7 linked regions of the Homo sapiens genome follow. The protein of the gene in region 5 purifies or fractionates together with the protein of the main gene of each other region. This does not show direct contact. Each region holds a gene or a part of one and is shown on either strand. Other genes may lie near its edges.

Evidence for each region.
Region 1: the proteins of AKR1C2 (region 5) and UPF2 purify together in Homo sapiens (co-immunoprecipitation; one large-scale study listed by IntAct). This does not show direct contact.
Region 2: the proteins of AKR1C2 (region 5) and TIGAR fractionate together in Homo sapiens (co-fractionation; one large-scale study listed by BioGRID). This does not show direct contact.
Region 3: the proteins of AKR1C2 (region 5) and HOXB6 purify together in Homo sapiens (co-immunoprecipitation; one large-scale study listed by IntAct). This does not show direct contact.
Region 4: the proteins of AKR1C2 (region 5) and ZFP1 purify together in Homo sapiens (affinity purification with mass spectrometry; 3 studies listed by BioGRID and IntAct, with this or other methods). This does not show direct contact.
Region 6: the proteins of AKR1C2 (region 5) and KIFC1 purify together in Homo sapiens (co-immunoprecipitation; one large-scale study listed by IntAct). This does not show direct contact.
Region 7: the proteins of AKR1C2 (region 5) and ABAT fractionate together in Homo sapiens (co-fractionation; one large-scale study listed by BioGRID). This does not show direct contact.

What each region holds. Positions count from the first base shown.
Region 1 is NC_000010.11:11,920,810-11,924,309, forward strand, and holds part of UPF2 (regulator of nonsense transcripts 2), read right to left. Parts: intron 499-3,500; coding exon 489-498; 3' UTR 1-488. UniProt on the Homo sapiens protein: Involved in nonsense-mediated decay (NMD) of mRNAs containing premature stop codons by associating with the nuclear exon junction complex (EJC).
Region 2 is NC_000012.12:4,324,213-4,327,712, reverse strand, and holds part of TIGAR (fructose-2,6-bisphosphatase TIGAR), read right to left. Parts: intron 3,374-3,500; exon of another isoform or gene 2,874-3,373; intron 1-2,873.
Region 3 is NC_000017.11:48,598,619-48,601,986, reverse strand, and holds part of HOXB6 (homeobox protein Hox-B6), read left to right. Parts: intron 1-323; exon of another isoform or gene 324-559; intron 560-1,441; exon of another isoform or gene 1,442-1,540; intron 1,541-3,368. UniProt on the Homo sapiens protein: Sequence-specific transcription factor which is part of a developmental regulatory system that provides cells with specific positional identities on the anterior-posterior axis.
Region 4 is NC_000016.10:75,169,024-75,172,523, reverse strand, and holds the end of ZFP1 (zinc finger protein 1 homolog), read right to left. Parts: intron 3,272-3,500; coding exon 2,190-3,271; 3' UTR 290-2,189; downstream 1-289. UniProt on the Homo sapiens protein: May be involved in transcriptional regulation.
Region 5 is NC_000010.11:4,997,358-5,000,857, forward strand, and holds part of AKR1C2 (aldo-keto reductase family 1 member C2), read right to left. Parts: intron 3,310-3,500; coding exon 3,193-3,309; intron 3,104-3,192; coding exon of another isoform or gene 3,053-3,103; exon of another isoform or gene 2,554-3,052; intron 1,921-2,553; coding exon 1,843-1,920; intron 1,391-1,842; coding exon 1,268-1,390; intron 421-1,267; exon of another isoform or gene 1-420. UniProt on the Homo sapiens protein: Cytosolic aldo-keto reductase that catalyzes the NADH and NADPH-dependent reduction of ketosteroids to hydroxysteroids.
Region 6 is NC_000006.12:33,390,551-33,394,622, forward strand, and holds the start of KIFC1 (kinesin-like protein KIFC1), read left to right. Parts: upstream 1-1,272; 5' UTR 1,273-1,435; coding exon 1,436-1,447; intron 1,448-4,072. UniProt on the Homo sapiens protein: Minus end-directed microtubule-dependent motor required for bipolar spindle formation. May contribute to movement of early endocytic vesicles. Regulates cilium formation and structure.
Region 7 is NC_000016.10:8,681,117-8,684,616, forward strand, and holds part of ABAT (4-aminobutyrate aminotransferase, mitochondrial isoform 1 precursor), read left to right. Parts: intron 1-2,142; exon of another isoform or gene 2,143-2,435; intron 2,436-3,500. UniProt on the Homo sapiens protein: Catalyzes the conversion of gamma-aminobutyrate and L-beta-aminoisobutyrate to succinate semialdehyde and methylmalonate semialdehyde, respectively. Can also convert delta-aminovalerate and beta-alanine.

The sequences.
Region 1 (3,500 bases), 6.9 Mb from region 5:
TTGCTCTATACTTTTCTACTGTAGTCCTGGAGCCCCCAAATGTATCTTCTTCCAACGTGGGATGTTCAATTCAGAGACACTGAAACTCAAATCAAGTTTAAAGCTCAAGTTCATTTCCCCCACACCATTACCATCACAACCCGTTTCTTCTCTGGCTCAATCATCTCCTTCACGCTCTCCTTGGTGTAACTGCTCAGTAGTCAAGTGAACCATCTCATTTCTTGACTGCCATTCTCAAGAGAAGATTAACCCTCGCGAGATTTCCATTACAAAAGGCCTTTTCCGCCTTGTCTGGAAGCGTCGGCTTGTTCCGGTGTTGGCAGAGGCTGGTGTTTCTGCCTCCTGGCCCCAGCCTGTCCCAGGTTTAGATTCGCAACTCTCTAGACCGACCTGCTGAGATGTGTCCACTGCTCTCATTCAATTGCTGGAGGACTCCACTAACCACAACATCAGATACAGGACCTAATGAAATGACACGTGCTGCTGGATCAACGTCTCCTAAAGGAACAAACAGGGTCACATCAGAGAGCTTACTGCCACAGGACAAAGTCCAGCAAGATGGCGTCTGCAACGCTACCCACCACCACCAAGTCACTCCCCCAAGTTACAGGTGGCCCTGGCATCTGCGGGTTCCACATCCATGGACCAAAAATATTCGGGGGAAAAAAACCCAAACAATAAAAAATAACATAAATATTAAAAACAATACAGTATATCAACTATCTCCATAGCATCTACACTTTATTAGGTATTACAAGTAATGTAGAGATGATGTAAAGTACACGGGAGGATGTGCATATGTTATACATAAATGCTACACCATTTTTTACCAGGGACTTGAATGTCTGTGCATTTTGGTGTCTGAGGGGATCCAGGAAGCAACCCCCTGTGGATACCGAGGACAACTGTAGTGCTTTTTTGAGAGCATTCATGCTCTCTACTGAGCTACAACTTAACCAGAGCCATTGGAGCAATGGCTGGAGGAGTGGCTCTGTTCTCTTCTACAACTTATTCTTAAGGTGCTAAGAATTCACAGTTTGTGTTATGGTTCAGTTGTGTATCCCCAAAATTCACATGTTAACACTGAACTGCAGGACCTCAGAATGTGACCGTATTTGGAAACAAGGTTGCTGTAGACGTAATTACTTCAGATAAGGCCATACTGGAGCAGGGTGGAGCCCTAATCCCATATGACTGCATCTCTATAAAAAGGGAAATTTGCACACAGACACACACAGGGGGAAAAGGCCACGTGAAGACAAAGGCGGAGACCAGGGTGAGGTATGACAAGGTATGGAAGCCAAAGACTGCCGGCACCCCCAGCAGTAGAAGGCAGGCCTGGAGCAGTCTTCCTCCAGGCCTCAGAAGGAACCAGCCCCGCTGACTCCCTGACCTCAGGTTTCCTGCCGGCGGCCTCCAGTGCTGCGAGACAACAGACATCTGTCGTTTAAGCTACTAGGGCTGTAATATTTTGTCATGGCAGCCCAAGCAGATGAACAGTTTGTTTCTTACAGAGCAAGCTACCTTAGCAAGAAACTTTCAAAGCGTTAAGATGCAAATATGGAAAAGTATATCCTCAGCTGGATAAGATCCGTAACTCTTCCAGAAATGAACTGATGGAAAGAACACAAGTATTCCCTGAGGGAATGAAAGAGAAGATTCAAGCATCTCTCCTGAAGTCAAGAAAAGGCAGCTATCTAACCTAGAATACTTTAAATAAATGCAGTAAATGACAGGAAAAAAATGTTCAAAATCTTTGCTAAGTAAGGTATAGTTATATCACTAGTTATAGTGTAAGGTGTCATTTGACTGGTTTATAAGCAAACAATCATTCTGAGTGACTCAAAAATCTATCAGCTCAAAAACTGTTTATTAATACAATATACACTTTGGATTAAATGCAATTCTACAATGGACTCTATTGTATAACAAAACTATCACTAATTTAACCTTACATAAAGATATATAAAAAAAAAATCTGATGAAAAAATGCAGACTCTACTTAAGATAGGTTTACAAGAGTTCAATATCAGCCTGGGCAACATAGTGAGACCTCGACTCCACTAAAAATAAAAAAAATTAGCCATTTGTAGTGGTGTGTGCCTATAGTCCCAGATACTGAGAGGCTGAGGCAGGACTGCTTGAGCCCAGGAGGTCGAGGCTGCGGTGACCTGTGATCACGCCACTGTACTCCAGCCTGGGTGACAGAGCAAGAACCTGTCTCAAAAACAAAATAAAACAACAACAAAATCATTTTTAAAAAGATGGGTTTAAAAGTCAGATAGTATACTCCTATGCCGCTAAGTGTAGGCCACACACCAGCAGTTTTGACATCACTGGAGATCTTGTTTAAAAGTAACCAGAGCTTGTTGTGCTCACTTCAGCAGCACATATACTAAAAATTGTAGTGATACAGAGAAGACTAGCATGGCCCTGTGCAAGGATGACATGCAGGTGGGGTGCAGTGGCTCACGCCTGTACCCTCAGCACTTTGGGAGGCTAACGCAGGCAGATCACTTGAGGTCAGGAGTTTTGGAGACCAGCCTGGCCAACATGGTGAGACCTCATCTCTACTAAAAATACAAAAATTTGGCTGGGCGCGGTGGCTCATGCCTGTAATCCCAGCACTTTGGGAGGCCGAGGAGGGTGGATCATGAGGTCAGGAGTTCAAGACCAGCCTGGCCAAGATGGTGAAACCCCGTCTCTACTAGAAATACAAAAATTAGCCAGGTGTGGTGGCAGGTGCCTGTAATCCCAGCTACTCGGGAGGCTGAGGCAGAGAATTGCTTGAACCCGGGAGGCGGAGGTTGCAGTGAGCAGAGATCACGCCACTGCACTCCGATATAGCGAGACCCCATCTCAAAAAAAAAAAAAAAAAAATTAGCTGGGCGTGGTGGCACATGCCTGTAATCACAGCTACTTGGGAGGCTGAGGCACAAGAATTGCTTGAACTCGGGAGGCAGAGGTTGCAGTGAGCCGAGATCCCGGCACTGCACTCCAGCCTGGGCAACAGAACAAGACTCCATCTCAAAAAACAACAAAAAAGAATGACACACAAATTCGTGAAGCTTTCCACAATAATTAAAAAATAATAATAAAAGAAACTAATCAGAACTTGCTTTTTAGTAAGAGTCTAGAGAGTTAATACGTATTTTAAAGTTTGAGAAGCATTGAAATAACCCATATGAATTAGTACCATCTAAGCCATGTAAGTATTAACACTTGCCAAAAATGTTAAGTTTCACAGATTTTCAATACTAGTGTATTAGAAAAACAACCTTGTTCTGCAATACAGAAAACCCTACATAATAGTTTTACTTACAGCACTGCTGCCGTTTCAACTCATTGTAAGCAAATGCCTCTTATTTGTTAAAGGGCTGAAATTTTAATTTATGTCCTTATTTCAAGGATCTCCTGGTTAGAAAATATACAAATACAAATTAAAATCTGGGAGTCCATCAAAAGCTACAGGAGAAAAATAGTTTATGCCGGGCGTGGTG
Region 2 (3,500 bases), on a different chromosome or scaffold from region 5:
CAAAACAAGTAACATCCTCGCTAGACAGTGGCTTGTAGCCCTTAATTTAAACCTGGCCTAAAACTGCCTCCATGCCTAGGGAGCTGTCACCTAACTTAATATGCACACAAACTACAACATAATTTGAGAGTATATTCCTGTAATAAAAACCAAGTCTCAGCCAACCATGCATGGCAGCTGAGCTTTCAGCCAATTATGGGCTGCAAACTGCTCAGACATGTCCTAATAAGGCAAAGCAGAGCTGTATCCAATCAGGCTATCTCTATATGTCACATCCTTTCTTTCTTTTTTTTTTTTTTTTTCTGAGATGGGGTCTCACTCTGCAGCCCAGGCTGGAGTGCAGTGGTGTGATCTCGGCTCACTGCAATCTCCAACTCCAGGATTCAAGCGATTCTCCTGCTTCAGCCTCTCAAATAGCTGGGATTACAGGCAAGCGCCACCACGCTCAGCTAATTTTTGTATGTTTAGTAGAGACATGGTTTCACCATGTTGGCCAGGCTGGTCTCTAACTCCTGACCTAAGGTGATCCTCCTGCCTCGGCCTCCCAAAGTGCTGGGATTATAGGTGCGAGCTACTGCGCCTGGCCATGTCACTTCCTTTCTCTGTCTATAAATACTGCCTGCCTATGTCACTGGGTGAGCACTCTGAAGCTTTACTGGTTCAGGTGCTGCCTGATTTATGATTCATTTCTTTGCTCAAATAAACTAAGTCTAATTTGTCTAAAGTTTTTCTTTTTATAGGTTGCTAACACAATTTCCAGCCAAAGCCAAAGAAGCACCCTCATTTTGAAATGAGGGGTGAGAAGAAATTTAATAATTTGCCAACCAAGAAATCATGCAAGAGCCACCAAAAAAACTCAGAATTTACAAATCACAGAAATTTGGCAGAGATGATTACTTTTTGTATACTTGCTGAAGAGTAACTCAGCATTTTTATTTAATCAAAGTAGATAATGAAAGATTCAAATTAAAATAAAGGTTTACACTGTCAAAATGTCATTTTATAAAAAATGGAATCCCAGAAATTTGATAGTTTCATAAAAGTACTGCCCCACCATCTAACGATTTTCAGTGAAAGCAGCATAACCACTGTGATATAATGAAGGACTCATTTAGCCATATATCAACAGAGGCTGCTGTAGACTCAATAGTATTATTAACAATCACAGCATTCAGTTTAGTTCTATTTGGCATTTTTGCGTTCAAATCACTTTATAAATATTAAAGAGTAGGAATCCAAAAATAGATTTTTTTCCAAAAGCTTTCATAAATATTTAGTTGTACAGCTTTTATCAGCTTTATTAAGAGGTTTATATAAATCCTTGAAGTAACTGTTTAATTAGTACGTTTGGGGAATGGGAAAGGAAACTTGATGGCTAAAACAGTTTTACTATTAATCTATTTCCCTTAACCAAGTCTGACTTGTGATAGCAGCAGAGAAGGTGAACGGAGCTGAAAGGTCAGAGGGATATATTTTGAAGGAGTCAGGAATAACACCACTCATTTTCAAAATCTGCAGTGTGGTCCATTTCCAAAACAGAAACCTGACTCTGCAGGAATCCGAGTGCTTCTGCCAAGATGTTAAGTCTTAGGATCAGCCATTTATAGGCCCTACAAATATACATCATTCATTTTGTAGGTTATCTCACAGTTCTTAAAAGACATTATATCTTGTTAGCCTGGATTTATACGCTGCAGCATTTCTTCAAAAATCATACAGAAACCTCAATTTCCCTTAATTCCATTTAAGGAATTCAAATTCAACACACAATACTCAGCGTGCTACAAAGGAGGAACAAATCATGGGAAAGCTGTTCTTTAGTGTAAATGAAAATGTAAACCCTCACCTGATATCACGAATACAGCTTAGTCCTAATTCCTTTACACTAATACATTCATTTGCAAATATAGAAGATTTCAAGAGCTAGTAACACAAGACTTTTGGTGGTCTTTCTTTTTTTTTTTTTTTTTTGAGACGAGTTTTACTCTTGTTGCCCAGGCTGGAGTGCAACGGCGCAATCTGGGCTCACTGCAACCTCTACCTCCCGGGTTCAAGAGATTCTCCTGCCTCAGCCTCCCGAGTAGCTGGGATTACAGGCGAGTGCCACTACGCCCAGCTAATTTTTTGTATTTTTAGTAGAGACGGGGTTTCACCATGTTGACCAGGCTGGTCTTGAACTCCCGGCCTCAGGTGATCCACCCGCCTCGGCCTCCCAAAGTGCTGGGATTGCAGGACTTTCGGCTGTCTTTGATCTTTATAAAGTATCTGTACAAGGTATCTTTATACTTTTATAGAGCATTAAAATTTTATAAAAGTATTAGCTTTATAAAAATACTAAATTACAGATGAGCTAATAGTATTTTGCTTGCTTTATTAATATACAGAACAATTATTAGCATTACACAAAAAGTAACTGCCAATAAAAGTACAGTAAGAAAAATCAGTTTTGCTATCAGTAACTTTACTAATTCGGCCAGGTGGGGTGGCTCACGCCTGTAATCCCAACACTTTGGGAGGCCGAGGCAGGCGGATCACCAGAGGTCGGGAGTTCGAGACCAGCCTGACCAAAATGGAGAAACCCCATCTCTACTAAAAGTACAAAAGTAGCCAGGCATGGTGGCACATGCCTGTAATCCCAGCTACTCCGGAGGCTGAAGCAGGAGAATCGCTTGAACCCGGGAGGCGGAGGTTGTGGCGAGCGGAGATCATGCCATTGCACTCCAACCTGGGTGACAAGAGTGAAACTCCGTTTCGTCAAAAAAAAAAAAAAGCAAAAACAAAAAAACTTTACTAATTCATTTTTAAATCATTAAAAGTATATTAAATTTAGTTTGCCAAAAAATTTTAAAGCTTTACGAGCTGCCTAAAAATGGAAGTGAACTTTTCTGAGGATCCGACAAGATGGCCGAGGTAGAGCAGAAGAAGCGGACCTTCCGCAAACTCACCTACCGCGGCACAGACTTGGACCAGCTGCGGGACGGGACGTGTCCTGCGAGCAGCTGACGCAGCTGTACAGTGCGTGCCAGCGGCCGCAAGTGAACCCGGGCCTGCGGCGGAAACAGAACTCGCTGCTGAAGCGCCTGCGCAAGGCCAAGAAGGAGGCACCGCCCATGGAGAAGCCGGAAGTGGTGAAGACGCACCTGCGGGACATGATCATCCTGCCCAAGATGGTGGGCAGCATGGTGGGCGTCTACAACGGCAAGACCTTCAACCAGGTGGAGATCAAGCCGGAGATGATCAGTCACTACCTGGGCGAGTTCTCCATCACCTATAAGCTGGTGAAGCACTGCCGGCCCGGCATCGGGGCCACCCACTCCTCCCGCTTCATCCCCCTCAAGTAGTGGCTCAGCTAATAAAGGCACACATATTTCCAAAAAAAAAAAAAAAAAGGAAGTTAAATGGATGGTTTTGCCGGGGACTCACTGCAAACACCTACAACATTCCAAGGAACCAGACCCTTCAGTAGTGCTGGATAGGTGATGGTAATGCCAACCTACACG
Region 3 (3,368 bases), on a different chromosome or scaffold from region 5:
CCTCCACACCGGCTTAACTCGACCTCCTTCCCAAGAGGGGGTGGCCAGGGCTAGGCTATGCGCCTCTGCTGCAGCGTTTGAATATTGGCCCCTGTCTCACGGGTTACTGATTAGCTTGGGCTTTCAAGCCGTAGGAGGAAGCTCTGGCAGTTCCTTTAAAGGTGCTGTGGTCCCCGTTCCTGGGTGGGGGTGGGGTTCCAGGAAATTGCCTGCGGTGCCAGGCAAACCAAGGTGTTGCCAGAGTCTGGCCGAGGGCTAGAGGAGCTGACGAGGTTAAGGGGCCTGGTGGTGCTGGGGACAAACACTGTGGCTGCAGCCCTCACCCTCTTTCGGCGCCTCTGGAGCAGCTCTTTATAGCTTTCCTGCGGCGAGGTGACTTTCTGGTGGCTATAAGGCCCGACTCAAGGAGCTGCTCTATAGGAGGCCCTGAGGGAGCCAGCCCTAGAAGGTCCTTGGCCCCTCTGAGATTTTGCTTTTGGGCAATCCAAAGGACATGTAGAGAAGTCAAGCTGGTACATGGTATTGAAACACTTCAGGGCCCTCAGGTTGTCCCCTGGACCTGCGGGTAGGAAACCGGGAGAGTGGGTTCAGCACTACTGCTCACTCCCCTAAAGATCAAAGAGGATGCCGCTCCTTTGCATAATGAAAATGAAGTCTTTGTACTTTGATTTGGAGGGGCCGATTTTAGGGCAAAGTGTCTCATCTAAACAGCCTCCCTCAACCTATGGGAGTGATCACTCAGTACCCCTGGGAACATTTATTTATGTTCCCCAAACCCAGAGAAACAGAGTCCAGGACGAGAATTGAGTTGAAATATTTTCATCCCACCCCACCCCAGCCAAAGTTGGGGGTGGTGGGAGAAGGTGCTCATCACCTCAAAGAGCTGAGGGAGAGGGCTTTATAGCTTAGAGGAAATTGGAAGCCTGGACAATGTCTCAGCACCCTCCCACACACACCACACCACACCACACACACACACACACACACACACACACGCAAATATCCCTCCTGAGGTTACCTATCAAGAATTTTACTCCCGAACTGAACACAACTTAGGAAACATTTTCCTGGGAGCTGGAATGTGTTAGCTTGCCCACAGGACTGCAGACTCACAGCATAGAAAATTACAATTATAAATCCTGCCTGTGGGGTATCTGTACAATCCCTCTGTTATGTACTCAAGAATTGGTACACACTTCTATCCATCTCTCTGAACACACACTTCCTCATTGAGGCAGGGAGAGACACCCCAGACTGGCGGATGGCTGAGCCCGCTGTGTATTTACATATTCCCCCAAGGAGACAGACAGAGGGCGGTGGACCGAACCACAGACAGATTCGTAGGGATCTGGCTCCAGAAAGGAGTCGGTCTCTGGCCTGCCCTGCCCGCCTGCTCTTTTTCCCAAACAAACGGATCAGACGAATAAACGCTCATAAATACCTCTGGGCTTAGATAAGAGCGATGAGGCGCTATTTTCTTTCATGCCCGACTCCAGGCGCCCAGGCCCGCCTGTAGTGGCTCCATCTCCAGACAAGCAACCTGCAGAGGTGAGGTTAATTTGGGGGCTGTGACTCTAAAGATAAGGCAATTATTTCCCTGCTTCTGACACAGGGAAATGCTCCCTTCCTCACCAGATCTTATTTTGTTCAGACTTCACTGAGAAAACCACACTATTTAGTGCTAGGATGGAGACATTGTGGGCAGGGAGGAGGCAGGGAAGGCTGAGGCCCAGGGCTCAGCCTCAGCAGTAGGCAGGGAGGTGCATGCAGGTACTCTCTCCCACTTTTCTCCCCCTGTTCAAATGGCCCCTAGTCCTCTCTAGAAGCAAGCCCAGCCATACCTAGATATGGAATATTTATCCTTCTTCATTATCAGGGGGTTTAAATTTGTTTTCTTAAATGCTTATCAAACACTCCCACAGAGTCAGGTTAGGAAGTAATTGGAGGCCATCTAGGGATGGCTATTTTGCCATTAAGGTACAGCCAAGAAGTTGCCCTGAGTTTAGAGAGCCTTGGAGACCACGTTGCAACCAAATAAGTTCCCACCCTTGGTGATCCAAGCTCAGTCCCCTGCCACCTTCCCTAGTGTCTTGTACCATCTTCAGTGGGCAGAACTTGGCCAGAAAAAGGAGCCCAAAGGAAGGACAAGGCAGAGGAGGGTCAGCCTGGCCTGACATCTGACTTTGTTCCATGCCCTGGCCCCTTCTTGTCCCCAGGTGTGAAGGTTGTCACCCTTCACTACTTGGCCTGTGTATGTATATTAGAATGTTGGGAATGCACTGTGGCCCTGTCTCCCAGCCTGGGCTCAATGCTTATTTTCCTTGGATGAAAGAGCCAGAGACATACATTCTCTGACACACCTAAATTTGTAAGGCGGCAAAGCTGATGATACAAACACGGGGTGTGGGAGGGAATTGTAGCGATGCTGAGATACAGACAGAAGGGAGAGGGGATGCTGGCTGATGGCTGGAAGCAGCCTGCTGAGTCCCCAAGAGAACGCAAACGACCTTCTCTCCCTATCAAACTAAAGCAAAAACCAAGTCTTGGGAAAGAATTAATTTTAAAAAGAACTGGCAGCTCCTACAGAGACTTAGAAGAGGAGTGAGGATGCATTTCTTCCCAGTGGTCTCTGACTGCCTCAACTATCAGGAGGGTTCAAAGCCCACAACTGGAAGAAGAATGATTTCTTCCTTGTGCCCAGATTTACTGGGACATCCCTGATTCCTGAAAATCCTATAGCCCAGGCTATTCTTAAGTCTTTTGGGATTGTAGAGGGTACTGGAGTGAGGGTTGCAGGCAGGATAGGGATCAGACAAATAAAGCCACCTAGGCTGAGGGATACCCCTCACTCCTTCACTCCATATCACCAAGTGAGGAGAGGGCTAGTCCCTTTCCCCAGTGCCCCTTCCCCTGCCAAGGGTGAGCAGCTGCATACTAGAACCAGGCAGAATGTTTTGGGCAGCCACCCTCGTCGCCGCCTTCCAAGAAGCTCCTAGTCTAGCCACAGAGTCAGAAGGGGAAGCTTGGGCTCAGTCCCTCCTGCCAGCTCCTCCTCTTCTGGGTCTTCTAGGCAGTGGGATCTGGCCTGCCCCCTCAGACCAGAAGGGTTGTGGAGAAGCAGGAACAATAAGCCGAGGCTTGGAGGAGACAGAGCAGATCTGATAAACAGGAAAAACGATGTTCAAAACCTGGGGAGGAGGGTGTTTCTTCTTTGCTTATCTTAGCGGAGAACTCTTCTCACCTTCTACCGACACAAAACCCTAGAAACAAACCTTCTTTAGTTCTCTCTCAAGGCGATTCGGAGACATTTACCCAACCCTCCCCGGAGAGAAGGGGTCGAAGCAACGCAGGGGTTAACTTTTCTGAAA
Region 4 (3,500 bases), on a different chromosome or scaffold from region 5:
CAGGAAAGAGACCTTCCAACATTTTGGCTCTCACTGGGCTCTGAAACACCATTTCTTCCTTTGGTCCCTAGGGAGACAACAGCTTCTTGGCACTGCTGGTCTCTGGATTCCTTACCATCCGTTGTTTGTTCCCTTAATCCTTCTCTCATTCTCCAAGTCATCCTTTCATAAGGCGCTAATTCAGTTTACTGCTAAAGCCCTCACTGATAAAGCTGGTGAGGTCCACAGGTTAAAAATGGAAGGAATTCTATTCACCAGGCCCATAAAATCATATACAAAGACACACATATATAAGGGTTTATCTTTATTTTATAAAAACTGCTACACACACACATACACTCTCTCTCTCCCCTCTTGCTTTCCTCATTTGACCTAGAGAAGTTTGGAGTTTGTTCCCACACATTCTTTTCAAGGAAATACCATTCAGCCATGGTATGTTTTTACCACAATTTATTCATCCATTCCCTTACTGATGGTCTTTTTTTTGTTTGTTTTTTTGGTCCTTACCAAAAAATACAATATACATTAGTAAACATATAATCTTAAGTGCTGGCGCTTTTTATTCCTTAGGGATAGATTCCCAGGAGATTCCTAGGTTGTAAGAGTATATTAATGTTAAAACAGACTCACAATGTTGTCCAAGGAGGCTGTTACAATTTACATTTCTAAAAGCAGCTATGAAAATAACGTTTTCCCCTCCTTTGTGAGTAAGTAAGATGACAACTTAGACAAAAGCTTATTGGGCTATGGATGTTCTGGATAAATTTGTTCAGAAAGTCACTCAATATATAGTGTGACAGCACATCAATGATATCCAAAAATATTTTTTAAAAGCCAGTTTTTGGTTGCCATTTATAATTTCCAATACATGATTTGTGATTGATAGGGAAAGGCTGAACTTAAGAATTTGAAATCAAGTCTATAAAAGCAAATCTTTGAGTTACACAACAATTCTTGTTAATATCTGGAGAGACCACTGAAAAATCTGATTTTTATAAAAGTGTAAACATGTAAAGGAAAAGTAATAACTTATAACTCATGTTCCAAAGGGAAATGTTTTAGGTTGGCAACAGCAAAACTCAAGGAAGTAGAAATGCCTCCTTTAAACAACAAAATAGTGTAAAAATTTACTTCTAAAGGGGGTTATGCACGTGAAAAATTTAAAAAGCAATGAAACAGTTGACAGTTATTTAAAATAATTTTTCCTCTAAAGTCTCTGAAATGTAACATTTGTGAACTACAGAAGCATCCTACCATTTTTGCTAGACAATTCATGAAATATTAAGGGAAACAAGGAAAGACAAAAACAGGTGGTTTCTGTCTGTGTTACACAATATTTTGGTAACAGACATGCATTTGTATGCAAATATCCCACGGGAAAATAAGAGCATGACGAATGGGGATATTGTCTTTACACGGCAAACTCTTATTCTGTGGTGCATACTGAGTAGTACAGCTCATGTCTGCCTCCTTCACGTTATAGATCGGTTATTTCACATTTGCATATTTGTGTAAATAGTGCTTCTAGAAAATCTTCAGCAAACCAGAAGCAGGGAAAACTTCAACACTGTCTTCTGTTTCCTAAGAGGCAGCTCAAGAACAATGTTCATACCAACTGATATATGCCAGCAAGCAGTAGGGAAAGACGTAGGTTCCATGCTACTTTAAATGTTACACATTTCATTTGGAATGCATACTGGATTGCAGAGATACTGAAAAACACATGTGATGTTTAGTATGGAAAATCTTGTTATGTCCTAATTATCACAGAGGACAAGAATTTCAAATTCCCAGTGATTATGCTAAATTCACATGTGCAGATCTAAAGCATACCACTTGTGTTTTGTGGCATATCCACATAAAACCACTAAATTCATAGGATACTGTTTGTATATTTCTTATGCTGCTGTCTAGAATACTCAATTCATTCAAGATTTTAAAAAGCTCATTGTAGTACAACTGGGTATGGCTATTTACAACTGGATATATTCTGATATGTATTCTTTAGCTGGGTATCACATGTAACTTCCAGTATAATGTTCTCATGGGATCCTATTTTTAATACATTTTTGAGTTGAGAGATTGCATCTCAGTATGAATTCCCATGTTCCCTCAATACTGTCATGAGGTTTTTCACCCGCTTGAAGAGTTCTGGCAGGAGTTTTCCACAGTAAGACCTGGCTGGAGTTTCAGGGTTTCTCCCCGATGTGAACTCTCTGATGGACACTGAGTCGGGACTTCCTGCTAAAGGCCTTCCCACATTCGGAACACTCATATGGTTTCTCTCCTGTGTGGATTCGCAAGTGTAATCTAAGAGTTGACCTCTGGCTGAAAGTTTTGCCGCACTCAGTACATTCATAGGGTTTCTCTCCTGTATGAGTTCTCATGTGTATGATGAGCTGTGAGTTCTGGATAAAGGATTTTCCACATTCACTGCACTCATAGCGTTTCTCCCCCGTGTGAATCTTCTGATGTATGATAAGGTTTGACTTCTTAAAGAAGGTTTTTGCACATTCGTTACACTCATAGGGTCGCTCTCCTGTATGAATTCTCTGGTGTGTGGTGAGTTCAAACTTTTGGGCAAATGTCTTTCCACATTCACTGCACTCATAGGGCTTCTTCTCCATATGTGCTCTCTGGTGTACAATGAGGTTTGACTGGTGGGTGAAAGCTTTTCCACATTCCGGACACTCGAAAGGTTTCTCCCCAGTGTGAATTCTCTGATGTTTGATGAGGTTGGCCTTATGGGAGAAGGTTTTCTTACATACATTGCATTCATATGGCTTTTCTCCAGTATGTATTCTCTTATGACTAATGAGGAGTGACTTAAAGGAGAAAGCCTTGTCACAGTAAGTACAAATGAAAGGTTGAACCAAGTTTTTTATTTTCTGATGTTTAAAAATGGCTGCTTTATGGCTGAGGGCTTTTCCACTTTTATTGTATTCAGAATATTCTACTCCACTGTGGGTTTTCTCTTGCTTCAGGTAGAGAAGTGCTTTTCCAAATTCATTACACTCATCAGTCTGCTTTCCTGCATAGCTTCTATTACTATTAAGCAAGTCTGAATTATATTTCAAAGTTTTTTCATATAAGTCATATTTATAAGGTACTTGTCTTAAAGAAACAAAGTCTGTGTTCAGATTAAGTGCTTTTCCAAAGAGATCGCCTCTTTCCTCAATTGGGGTTTGGTTCTTAAGAATTAAAAATTGCCTCGCCTGCTCGTCTGGGTTTCTGTGGTCTCTCTCCATCTGGTCATCAGCCTTCCACACTTCTAGGAATAGAGAGCACAATGAAAAGAACCTTGTCAATGCCTCCGCTATAATGTTACCGAATGGGAAGTCTTCACACGTGTTCTATCACAGGGCTGACTCTTTAGTTTGGGACCCAGTCTCCCAATATTAAAAAATTCCCAGTGCAAATGTTTCCTTTCAAACTTTGAAAGAGAAAGGTAATAGCTTGTGGTTAAAAAAACAAAACAAAACCAAAATCAATACAAGTAG
Region 5 (3,500 bases):
TAAAATATGGACCGGATACCAAATGACATAAGGGCACTATAAATGATGTTCTTAGATACAGTAATGACACTGGAACTGGGAGAATATCTTCATTCCTGTGACATGCTTTGAGAGGTCTCTAGGGGTCAATTGTCATCTTTACAATTTACCTTGAAGAGGTTCTAGAAACATTATATGTATTTATGCAGATATACTCCATATAACATTGCAAAATGTTAGTAATTTTGAATATAAATGGTAACATGGGTCTCCAGTATTATTTTTATCAAATTTTTGGAAAGTGTGAAAATGGCCATATTAAAAAATTGGGGAACTACTAGTATTAAAACCACATTAATTTCTCAATGCTTTTATTAAATTATCACAGCACCATATCATTATACCAAATTATAACAAAATTATAACAAAAAATGTAAGTTACTGGGAAAGGTGTAGTGATTTTAATGCTGAAATGTGTGTAACATTTGGGGGCAGTCAATTTGATCAAGGAGGCCTGGAATCACCAGTCAGGACTCAAGGAAAAGATGGAATTATCTCTAGGCTATGAAAGAACCATGCATAGAATAGATGTGTTTAAGCAGCTGATTGCATGACAGACTCCAAAAAGCAGCCGACTAGGAGCGGGGCAGTCATAGGTCAGCTCCATGTTCTGCTGAACCTTCCTCAGTGTGGATTTCATCCACTGTGAACAGATATCTCCATAAACAGGTCATTTTCTCTTTCTACCATGGATGACCTTCACTGTCTGCAGATAATTTTTAGTGTATCTATGCCCTTGGTCAAGAAGTGTGAAAGCAGAGATATCAAGAGACACTGAGACATCCGAAGCCCATGTGAATCCCTAGTATTTCTCTTCTCTTGCTCTCACTCTCTCCTTATGTACTGTTCATTCCATCTCTTCATGGCTTCATATCTATGCACAGTTCCCTCCAAATCACCTTCACCCGTCCACTCTCTGGTCATCTTTCGTAGCTTAGGGGTAAGTCCACCTTTCCCTGAGTCTAATTGGCAATCCTTGGACTTCTTGATCGAATTGACCTCCTATAAATGTAACACACAATTCAGCATCAAAGTTACAACACCTTTTCGTAAGACTTTTCTAAGCAGGGTACAAGTAAGAGGACTCCATGCCCTTCTAGGAAGAGGCTTTGTTCTCTAGAATCTTCTCTTTTACAAAGATAAGTGGGACTAAATGAATGGATACTTGGCAATAGGACAGAAAGAGGGGCATGAAGAACAGAAAGGAGAGGAGGCTGAGGGCGCTCACCTGGTTGCAGACAGGCTTGTACTTGAGCCCTGGCTTGTTGAGGATCATCTCCAGCAGCCTGTGGTTGAAGTTGGACACCCCGATGGACTTGGCCAATCCTGCATCTTTACACTTCTCCATGGCCTGGGAAAAAGGAATTGTGAGGTATCATTTGTGTAGTCGACTGAAGAGCAAGATAAATGTAACATAGAACTGTGAAAGCAACAACTGTCTAGACGTGACAATCAAACTAGCTAGCCGTGGTTCTTAAAAGGGAGAAAATAAAACAGAAAAATTGGGGAAGAAGATAGTGATTGCAAGAGTGAGAATTTCTGTTTCCTCCTTAGGAAAGTGGAGAGATTAATGTACAGGCAAGGAAAGAAATCCCAGTCCTCCTTACCCCCAATTCTTCTCCTCCACTTCTCTCTTTTGTATGCCTGTCATTTCTTTTTCCTCGCTGCTCACAAAAACTACCTTTGTAAAGTTCCTAAGTTTTTGATCCAATGGTGCATTTTCCATACTTGTACTAAGAAGATAGGAAACAGATGTATCCTACCTCATCTTTCTTATCCGTTCTCTCACCTCCAAACACTCACCTCCCATGTGGCACAGAGATCCACTGTGTCAAATAGTATTTTTCCATTTTCATCTTTTGGGATCACTTCCTCACCTGGCTGAAGTAGAAGCAGTCAGTTTAGTGATGTCACAAGTCAATTTCTCCACACATAGCCATGCTCTGAGGTACATTTAAGGACACTAATCCTCCATGAGGTAGGTGATGCAGCGCTCCAGAGAGTGGTATGTACAAAGTGTACTACATATGAAGGTATAAGGAATGTCTTCAGGTGACAGGCTTCCTCTAATCTCTTACACCTATTATATGTATAAATAAATACCATCTTTCTGGTTCCTAATGGAGTGTCATCATTGACTTTCATTGACTTTCTTCTGCTCCTATAATTTTCTCTGTGGCAATACCTCTCTTCAACTGCAAAAGATCTTGATATCCAGATATAATGGATTGTACTTTTTACCCAGGTGCCACTATCAGAGTTCTTTATCTCCCTGAACATATGATGTTCCATGCACAGGACCATGAACCAATCATGGTCAATGGAGGCGTTTTCCAGGCTAGTTTGGAAATTAGGAGATGCACAGGAGCTCACGGTAATGAACATGGGCCTGACAGTGCTCCAAAGCCATAAATGCCACCAACGAAAAAGGTTGGAACAAATATTTAAAAAGCCTTTTGTAATAAAGCAGAGATAAGGGTGGAGAAAGGATATATTTTTAGAGTTTTTATCAAATTCTTAATGTAGCCCTGGCTTTGATTTCCCATTATCATATCTAATATACCCTTTTGCATTAACTAGCCTGACTAGTTTTCAGTACCTTAAGACAAAAGTTATGAATGACACAAGAATTCATGGCTAAGCAAAAATAAAACCTCCAGTGTGAAAAGAGAGGAAGCAGAAGCAACAAGGTTTCCCATGAAGGTTTGTAGTTTAAGACATTCCCGGACTGAGTTCTTGCCCCTTGAAAAGAGGCAAGAAGATGGAAACTCATTGTGCACCCTATGTGCAGCAGGTTTTCTGGACACCACAGCTTCATGAAACTCTGTGTCTGTGAACATCCCAAGAGGTGAAATCAGGAATCATAAATAAGACCTTGTGCCTTCAAGGAGATGATTGTCATTTCCTCAAGTTTTTGAGGCAGAGGCTTTGAGGATTCTGCACTCTCTTTTCTTGTAGACATGCAATCACGGAAGTATGGATTCAAAATTGCTTTCTGTTCCATAGAAAGGAATTAGGAGTTATGTTTAGGGCTCTTCTTCCATGTTAAAATCCCTATGTCCTCCTAAGAAAAAGCTTAGTTCAAATCTCCATGAAAACAATATTTATGCTGAGAACAAAAGTGAAATTAATTTGATCACACAAGCTGCCTACCTTTACAGACACTGGAAAATGAATAAGATAGAGGTCAACATAGTCCAATTGAAGATTTTTCAGTGACCTTTCCAAGGCTGGTCGGACCAACTCTGGTCGATGGGAATTGCTCCAAAGCTGCAGAGGTTAGAGAAACGAAGTTGTGTAATGAAAACTTGAGCCAGTTTTACTAGTTTGCTCCACCTAATATTTAGACATTTTCTACTACTTCAAAACTAATGACCACAGGCAAAATTATTCTCTCTCTTCTTGTGATGCCTTTTGTTCTGCCATATCATGATGAACTTTATAATATGTTGGATATATAG
Region 6 (4,072 bases), on a different chromosome or scaffold from region 5:
TGGTTTTCAGACAGTGTGTCTCCCCACAATCTGCTTCTCTCTACAAGCTTGTTTGAAGCCAAGTTAAAGCAATGGATAGAAGACGGCAGCGCGGGTGTCAGACCTGCCAATTTCCAACTGCACACCAAATCCCCGAACATATGCTTGAGGCCCCTGCCTTTCGGTTTCATAAATAAAACCCTGTCCTGACTACCTCCAGGATTGGATGGAAACTCGGATGAGTAAATATGGTAGAACGACTTTGCAAACTAGCACCCTATTCACACGTAAGGGGTTGCTCTTGTCACCGAGACTGTTAGAGGCAACGTGAGTTAACAGAAATAGCTTGGATTTTGAAGCTAATGGAATCTAGATCCATTCCTAACCAGCAGTGTGACCTTATTGTGTAATCTTTCTGAACCTGTCTCCATCCATCTCTACAAAGAATGTGGCACAATGTAGGAACTCAGTGAATTTTCGTGATTAAAAGACGAGATAATACAGGTGCACAATCTGCAAAACATAAAATACTCCATAAATGGAAGCAGTAAATCTTCCCCGAGCTCGAGACTCCAAAGGCCCTGAGCCCAGTACCAGTAACAGCACCCAGGTAAGTAGGCTGGCTGAGAGAAGAGGGCTATAAAGAAAAGTTCTTTCCTGAGCTTTGAATCCCCACTGTCAGGCTTCAATGGAGCGCAAAAATTCCTAAATTTGGTGAGAAATGGCAACATTACCAGGGAATGAACAGACCAGGCCACTCACATCCACGTGAGGGCTCCAGGAGCCACTTCCGGGCCCAGTCAACCACGACCAGGAGAGGCAGCGCTGGAGCCTCAATCACGTCGACGGAAAACAAGTGCGCTCCCTACTGCAGTCACCAGGAGGCGCTAGTCCCGCCTGTCTCCCGGCACGGGTCCTCGTTTGCGCACGCGTCATTTCTTTCCTCCAGCGTCCCCGCCCCTTCTCCTCCGGCCGCCACCAGTTTCGCTTGGCCAGTTGCGTTCGTGCGGCGACGTCCACGCATTTTCTGACGTAGCGAGCGACGGCGGGGAGCCGAGCGGAAGTCCAGCACTATTGCCGCTAGAGGAGGGGAGGGGTGAGAAGCATAAGTGGCACCGGAAGTGGAATTAATCCGCCTACCTCTCCTGCGCCTGCGAAACAGAAAAGACAAGGCGCCTGTCGGGCGGGGTGTGGCTTCGGGTGGCGGAGAACGCTGCGATTGGCCCTCGGCTGTGGCGACAGCGACGATTGGTCCCTGCGTGCAGAGCGCGGTGAGAGTGGGTGGTGGCCGTTGGAATTCAAAAGTGGCGGGTGTGGCGCGGGGCTGGTAGCGGCCGGAGCCGTGCGAGTTCTCTACCCTGCTTCGCGAGCGGGCGAGAGAACGCGAGTCCCAGGATCCCCGGCACCCAGTTCTCTTCCACTGCATTCCCCCGGCGCGTGTGGGACCGAGGTGGACATGGATCCGCAGGTGAGTAGGGGCGGCGCAGGTGTCCTGCCCTGGGGATGGGGACGAAGGCTGACCGCTCCGATGCTGTCGCGCCCCCGGCTCCCGGTCGGCCTTTGTCATGTCTACCGGGAGAGCGAAGGTCCGTGCGCCCCCGCACAAGTGGAAAGGGGCGGAGGCAGGAGTGGAGACGGCTTAGAGCACCCGGGGAGGTCGGAAGGCACGTCTGTCTGCCCTCCCCTAGCTTCAAGTTTCTGGAGCCCCTCCCTTAACTTTCATGTCTCCGAGATTTCTCATTTCGAATTCTCAGGCTCGTCTGACACATTTCCACTTCTTTATTCCTACTCAGGGTGTGATTGCAGTGTGTAAGAAGGGAGAGTTCTGATATGACTTCTTCCTTTTGGGGACATGGTGTCTGAGGCCACATCCTTGCTGAGGTCCTTTTGTGTTAATCGCCTCTCCTTATCACTGCTGCTTCGGAGTGTAGGAAAGGGAGAAGGAGAGTAGGGTAATCTGGGCCAAAAGACTTCTCATTCTCTCTCTCCTTTCCCAAATTGTGCAGATTCCTGCCCAATGAAACTGATTGATTTAGTTCTTTCTCTTAAATGGTGCCCTGCTGCACCCCACAACCATATGCAGCTTCCTGTCTCCAGTGAAGAGAGATGAATGTGTGTGACAGCTGGAGTGTACTTATCTCTGGTGCCAGGAAAGGTCTGCCTGAATCCTTTGTTTACTAGTATTTCACGTTCAGGTTTCCCTGAAGTTAGGATTCAGCCTTAAGAGAGATTCTTTCTCTCGTGACAACCAGAGAGCAGAGTAGTATTATGTGACAGTAAGAAGTAGTAAAAGCCTTCTCAGATCTATTAATCAAGTATTTATTGAGCACCTACTACATGCTAGGCGTGGTTGTAGGTACTTAGGATGCAGCAGTGAACAAGGGACAAATCGTTGCCATCGTGGAGCTGCCATTCTATGGGGATACAGACAATAAATGTAATAAATGAATTATATAACTGCCAGAAGGCCGTAAGTGCTGTGGAGAAAAGGAGAAATTCAAGGTTGAGGACATAGGGGAGGCCAACTGGCGGGTTAGAGTATTAAATAGGGTGGTCTCAGTAACCCCCATGGAAAAGATGAGTTGAATAAAGACTTGAAGGAAGTGAGGGAGACAGACAAGCAGATAGTGAGGGAAGAACATTTCAGGCAGAGGGAATCTGCTAGAGCAGAGTCCCTAAAGAGTTGTAAGGAGGGAAGTGTGGCTGGAATGAAGTGAGCAAGGGGAAAAGTTGTGGGAAAGGAAGTCAGGTAATGGGTAGTGGGGTTGCTGATCACAGTTTGTCCTTGTGGGGGTCGTTGTGAGGACTTTTACTCTGAGTGAGATGGGGAATCATTGGATGATTTTAAGCAGAGAGATAAGATTTGTTGGGTCCACCAGATTTTCGTAACCATAGCACCATTGCCTTTTTTTTTTTTTTTTTTTTTTTGAGACAGGTTCTCTTTCTCTGTTCCCAGGCTGGAGTGCAGTGGCATGATCATGGCTCACTGGAGCCTTAACTTCCTGGGCTCAAGTGATCCTCCCACCTCAGCCTCCTGAGTAGCTGGGACTACAGGCAGCTGCCACCATGCCTGGCTGATTTTTTGTATTTTTAATAGAGACAGGGTTTTGCCATGTTGCCCAGGCTGGTCTGGAACTAACTCCTGGGCTCAAGCAATTCGCCTGCCTCGGCCTCCGAGAGTGCTGGGATTACAGGCATGAGCCACCGTGCCCTGCAACATTTTTTTTTTTTTTTTTGAGAAGTAGTCACGCTCTGTCGCCAGCCTGGAGTGCAGTGGCGCGGTCTCGGCTCACTGCAACCTCCGCCTCCCGGGTTCAGGCGATTCTCCTGCCTCAGCCTCCCGAGTAGCTGGGACTACAGGCGCCTGCCACCACGCCCGGCTAATTTTTTGTATTTTTAGTATAGACAGGGTTTCACCGCGTTAGCCCGGATGGTCTCAATTTCCTGACCTCATGATCCTCCCACCTCGGCCTCCCAAAGTGCTCGGATTACAGGCATGAGCCACTGCACCTGGCCAACATTTTTTATTGTCGTGACTAGGTGGGGGGTTGCTACTGGCATCTAGTGGGTAGAGGGCAGGGATGCTGCTAGGCATCTGACAGTGTACAGGACTGCATTGGACATTGTCAAATGTCACCTTGGGGATAAAATCACCCCCAGTTGAGAACCACTGGTTTATGATAATCTAGGTGCCAGATGATGGTGTCTTAGGTCAGGGTGATAGCAGTGGAAGAAACAGTAAAAAGTGATTGGATTCTGGATATATTTTGAAGGTACAATCAGCCATGCTTTGCTGACAGATTAGATGTGGTATGTAGGAGAAAGAGAGGACTCTGGGTTTTTGGCTTGAGCAACTGAAAGATGGAGTTATATCAATTGAGATGGAGAAAGCTGCAAAAGGAGCAAGTTCAAAGCAGGGTTGGACATCAAGAGGTCAGTTATTAGACTTCCAAATGGAGATTTTTTTTGATACGGAGTCTCTCACTCTGTTGCCCAGGCTGGAGTGCAGTGGTGTGATCTCAGCTCACTGCAACTTCTACCTCCCAGCTTCAAGCAATCCTCCCACCTCAATCTCCCGAGTAGCTGGGATTAC
Region 7 (3,500 bases), on a different chromosome or scaffold from region 5:
CACAACAGGTGCCACCACACCTGGCTAATTTTTTAAAAAGCATTTTTTTGTTGTTGTTGAGATGGAGTCTCCCTATGTAGCCCAGGCTGGTTTTGAACTCCTAGGATCAAGCGATTCTCCCACCTCGGCCTCCCAAAGTGCTGGGATTACAAGTGTGAACTGCCTCGCCTGGCCCAGAGTTCTTTATATAAATAAATGTTTCTTTGTGTCACTATTTCTTCATCCACTTAAATATTTGCTCAGCTCCTGTAGGTCACACACTATCTTGTGATCCTGGGAATACCACCAGTTCCTGCCTATCAGGAACTCACAGTCTACTGCAAAGTTTCTCAGCCTCTACACTTTTTTTTTTTTTTTTGAGAGGGAGTCTTGCTCTGTTGCCCAGGCTGGAGTGCAGTGGCATGATCATGTTTACCTGGAACCTATGAATAGGACCTAATTTGGAAATAGAGACTTTGCAGAAATAGTTAGGTTGAAATGAGGTCTTTCTGCATTAGAGTGGCCCCTAATCCAATGACTGCTATCTTTTTTTTTTTTTTTTTTGAGATGGAGTCTTGCTCTGTTGCCCAGGCTGGGGTGCAGTGGTGCAATCTCAGCTCACTGCAACTTCTGCCTCCCGGGTTCAAGCGATTCTCCTGCCTCAGCATCCTGAGTAGCTGGGATTACAGGCACCCGCCACCACACTCAGCTAATTTTTGTATTTTTAGTGGAGACAGGGTTTCACCATGTTGGCCAGGCTGGTCTTGAACTTGTGACCTCAGGTGATCCACCCGCCTCGGCCTCCCAAAGTGCTGGGATTACAGGCTGAGCCACCTCTCCTGGCCCACCTCTATACTACTGACGTGGAAGCGAGGCTGTCCTGTGCCGGATGTTTAGCAGCATTCTTGGCCTCCACCCACCAGACGCTGGCAACATACCTTCCTCCACGTTGTGACAGCCAGAAATGTCTCCAGGCATTATGAAGTGTCCCCTGGGGAACAAGATTGCCCCTGGTTGAGAATCACCGGTTAGAGGCTAAGACAGCCGTGTATATCTATAATTTCAATCAGATTGCTTGTGCCTAACAGGATACACACACACACACACACACACACACACACACACACACACAGAGGAGGCATTCAGGATGTATTTGTTGGATGTTGGATGGCTGGGGGTGTAGATGGATGCATGGATGGACAGACACAACCCCTTTGTTGGTTGGCTAGATTGATGGATACATGTGTGAATGAATGGATGAATAAATGAATCCAATTTACAAATTCCACTGTGGGAAAACAGAACGCTATTCTTCCAACCAGAGTAGCCTGCCCCTTTATCTCTGTCTAGCACAGTGTTTTTCAAACTTTAGCATCAGAATCCCCTCAAGAGCTTGTTAAAACACAGATTGATGCCCCTGCCCACCAGAATTATGATTTAGTAGAATCACCGGCGGCCAGAATGCTCCCAACTCTATTTCCATGTTCTCTAGGAATCCTGGACCAGCCCCCGACCCCTGCCAACCTTGTCCTTGTCCAGAGGTCCCGTAATCTTCACTGCCAGCATCTCCCATTTAGGTGCTAACATCTATTATCTTGGATATCAGCAACTTGCCAGCACTCTGTCCCTGGGCTGCACTGAGAATTCCTTCAAAGGTGGGACCCACTGTATTCTAGTACCTTACTACTGAAAGTGTGGTCCAGCGGCCAGCAGCATTGCATCTTCTAGGAGCTAGCTAGAAATGCAGAATCTTGGGCCCCACCCAGAACTACAGAATGTGAATCTGCGTTTTAACAATATCCCCTGGGGTGATTTGTGTGCACTTTTAAGTTTGAGAAGCGTATTTTAGACAGATCTGTAAACCCCACACTCAGAGCTAAGCTAGGGATAGCTTTGCTGATAAGTTACATTGACAGCATCTGTTACCATGTAATTGGTGCCTGAGCTGAAGCATCTTTCAGGCATTACTGGCCATTTGTACCTTTGCCTGACGTTATCTCTTGAAATGTCTACACTGGCCTCGCTTTACCCGTGGGAAACCAGAAGCCCAGAGGAGCAGTGCCTTGCCCAAGGTCACACGATGACCATGAAAGCAGAGTGGAGATCACTCTCCACTCCTTAAAGGGAATGGGATCAAGAGGATTGAAATGCTGTATCCACTGAGCAGGGCGGCACATGCCTGTAGTCCCAGCTACTCGGGAGGCTGAGGCAAGAGGATTGCTTGAACCCAGGAGTTCTGGGCCGTACTGTACTATACCAGTCAGGTGTCTGCATTAGTTCGGCATCAATATGGTGACCTCCTGGGAGTGGAGGACCACCAGCTTGCCTAAGAAGGGGTGAACCAGCCCAGGTCAGAAACAGAGCAGGTCAAAACTCCTGTGCTGATCGGTAGTGGAATTATGCCTGTAAATAGCTACTGCACTCCAGCCTGGGCAACATAGTGGAACCCTGTTTCTAAAAAAAAAAAAGAGAGAGAGAGAGAGAGAAAAGAACTGAAATGCTGCTATGATACTGAAAATATGGGGTGTAGGGGGAGCATTCTGAAGCTACTTAGGTCTGTCCTCTGAAACTGGAGAAAGGGGAGATGACTTGAAAGTGATGCAAGAACAAGAACTTAAGTTGTATTCTTTTGTTCATCCAACCAGTGTTTATTGAGTACTTACTAGACTCCAGGCATGGTTGTCTGGTATCTATAGTATTGAACAAGAAAAGCCAGGCCTCCCTTTTGATGGCTTATCTGGAGTGGACAGACGTAGCCATCTGGCATTCATTCGTCAATGAGTGTGTTCATTTATTGCATGATTTCCATGTGCTGTGTACAGTAGTAGGGGTGTGTGCGTGTCTATGTGTCTGTGTGTGTGAGAGAGACAGAGAGAGAGAGAGAGATGGAGGGAGAGACAAAGACTCAGCTACTACACCAGCGCCTCTTCTAGACTAGCCATGCGGAAACAGGCCCCAAAACAAGGACCACACAGTGAGGAGAGTGCCGAAGGTGTGTGGGAGTGAATACAGGTTCAAGCTCAAAGTAAAAAGAGGTTACCACTCCCTGTTCCTGGGGATTCTAGGGAAGAAATTTCAGGAGGAAAAGGCAGAAAAGAAGAGAAAGAGACTCTGTGCAGGGAGAGCATCATGAACAGGCCCAGAGAGTTCATAGGAAGCCGTTCCAAGAAAATCGCAGGGGAAAAAGGAAGGATAGACAGCGTATGGTGGCTCGCACCTGCAATCCCAGCGCTTTGAGAGGCCGAGGTGGGTGGATCACTTGAACCCAGGAGTTCAAGACCAGCCTGGCCAACATGGCCAAACCCCGCCTCTACAAAAAATACTAAAATTAGCCGGGCATGGTGATGCATGCTTGTAGTCCCAACTACTCAGGAAGCTGAGGCAGGAAGATTACTTGAGCCCAGGAGTTTGAGACCAGCCTGGGCAACATAGCAAGACCCCTCAAGACCCCTTCTCTACAAAAAATTTTAAAAATTAGCCAGGTGTGGTAATGTGCACCTGTAGTCCCAGCTACTCAGGAG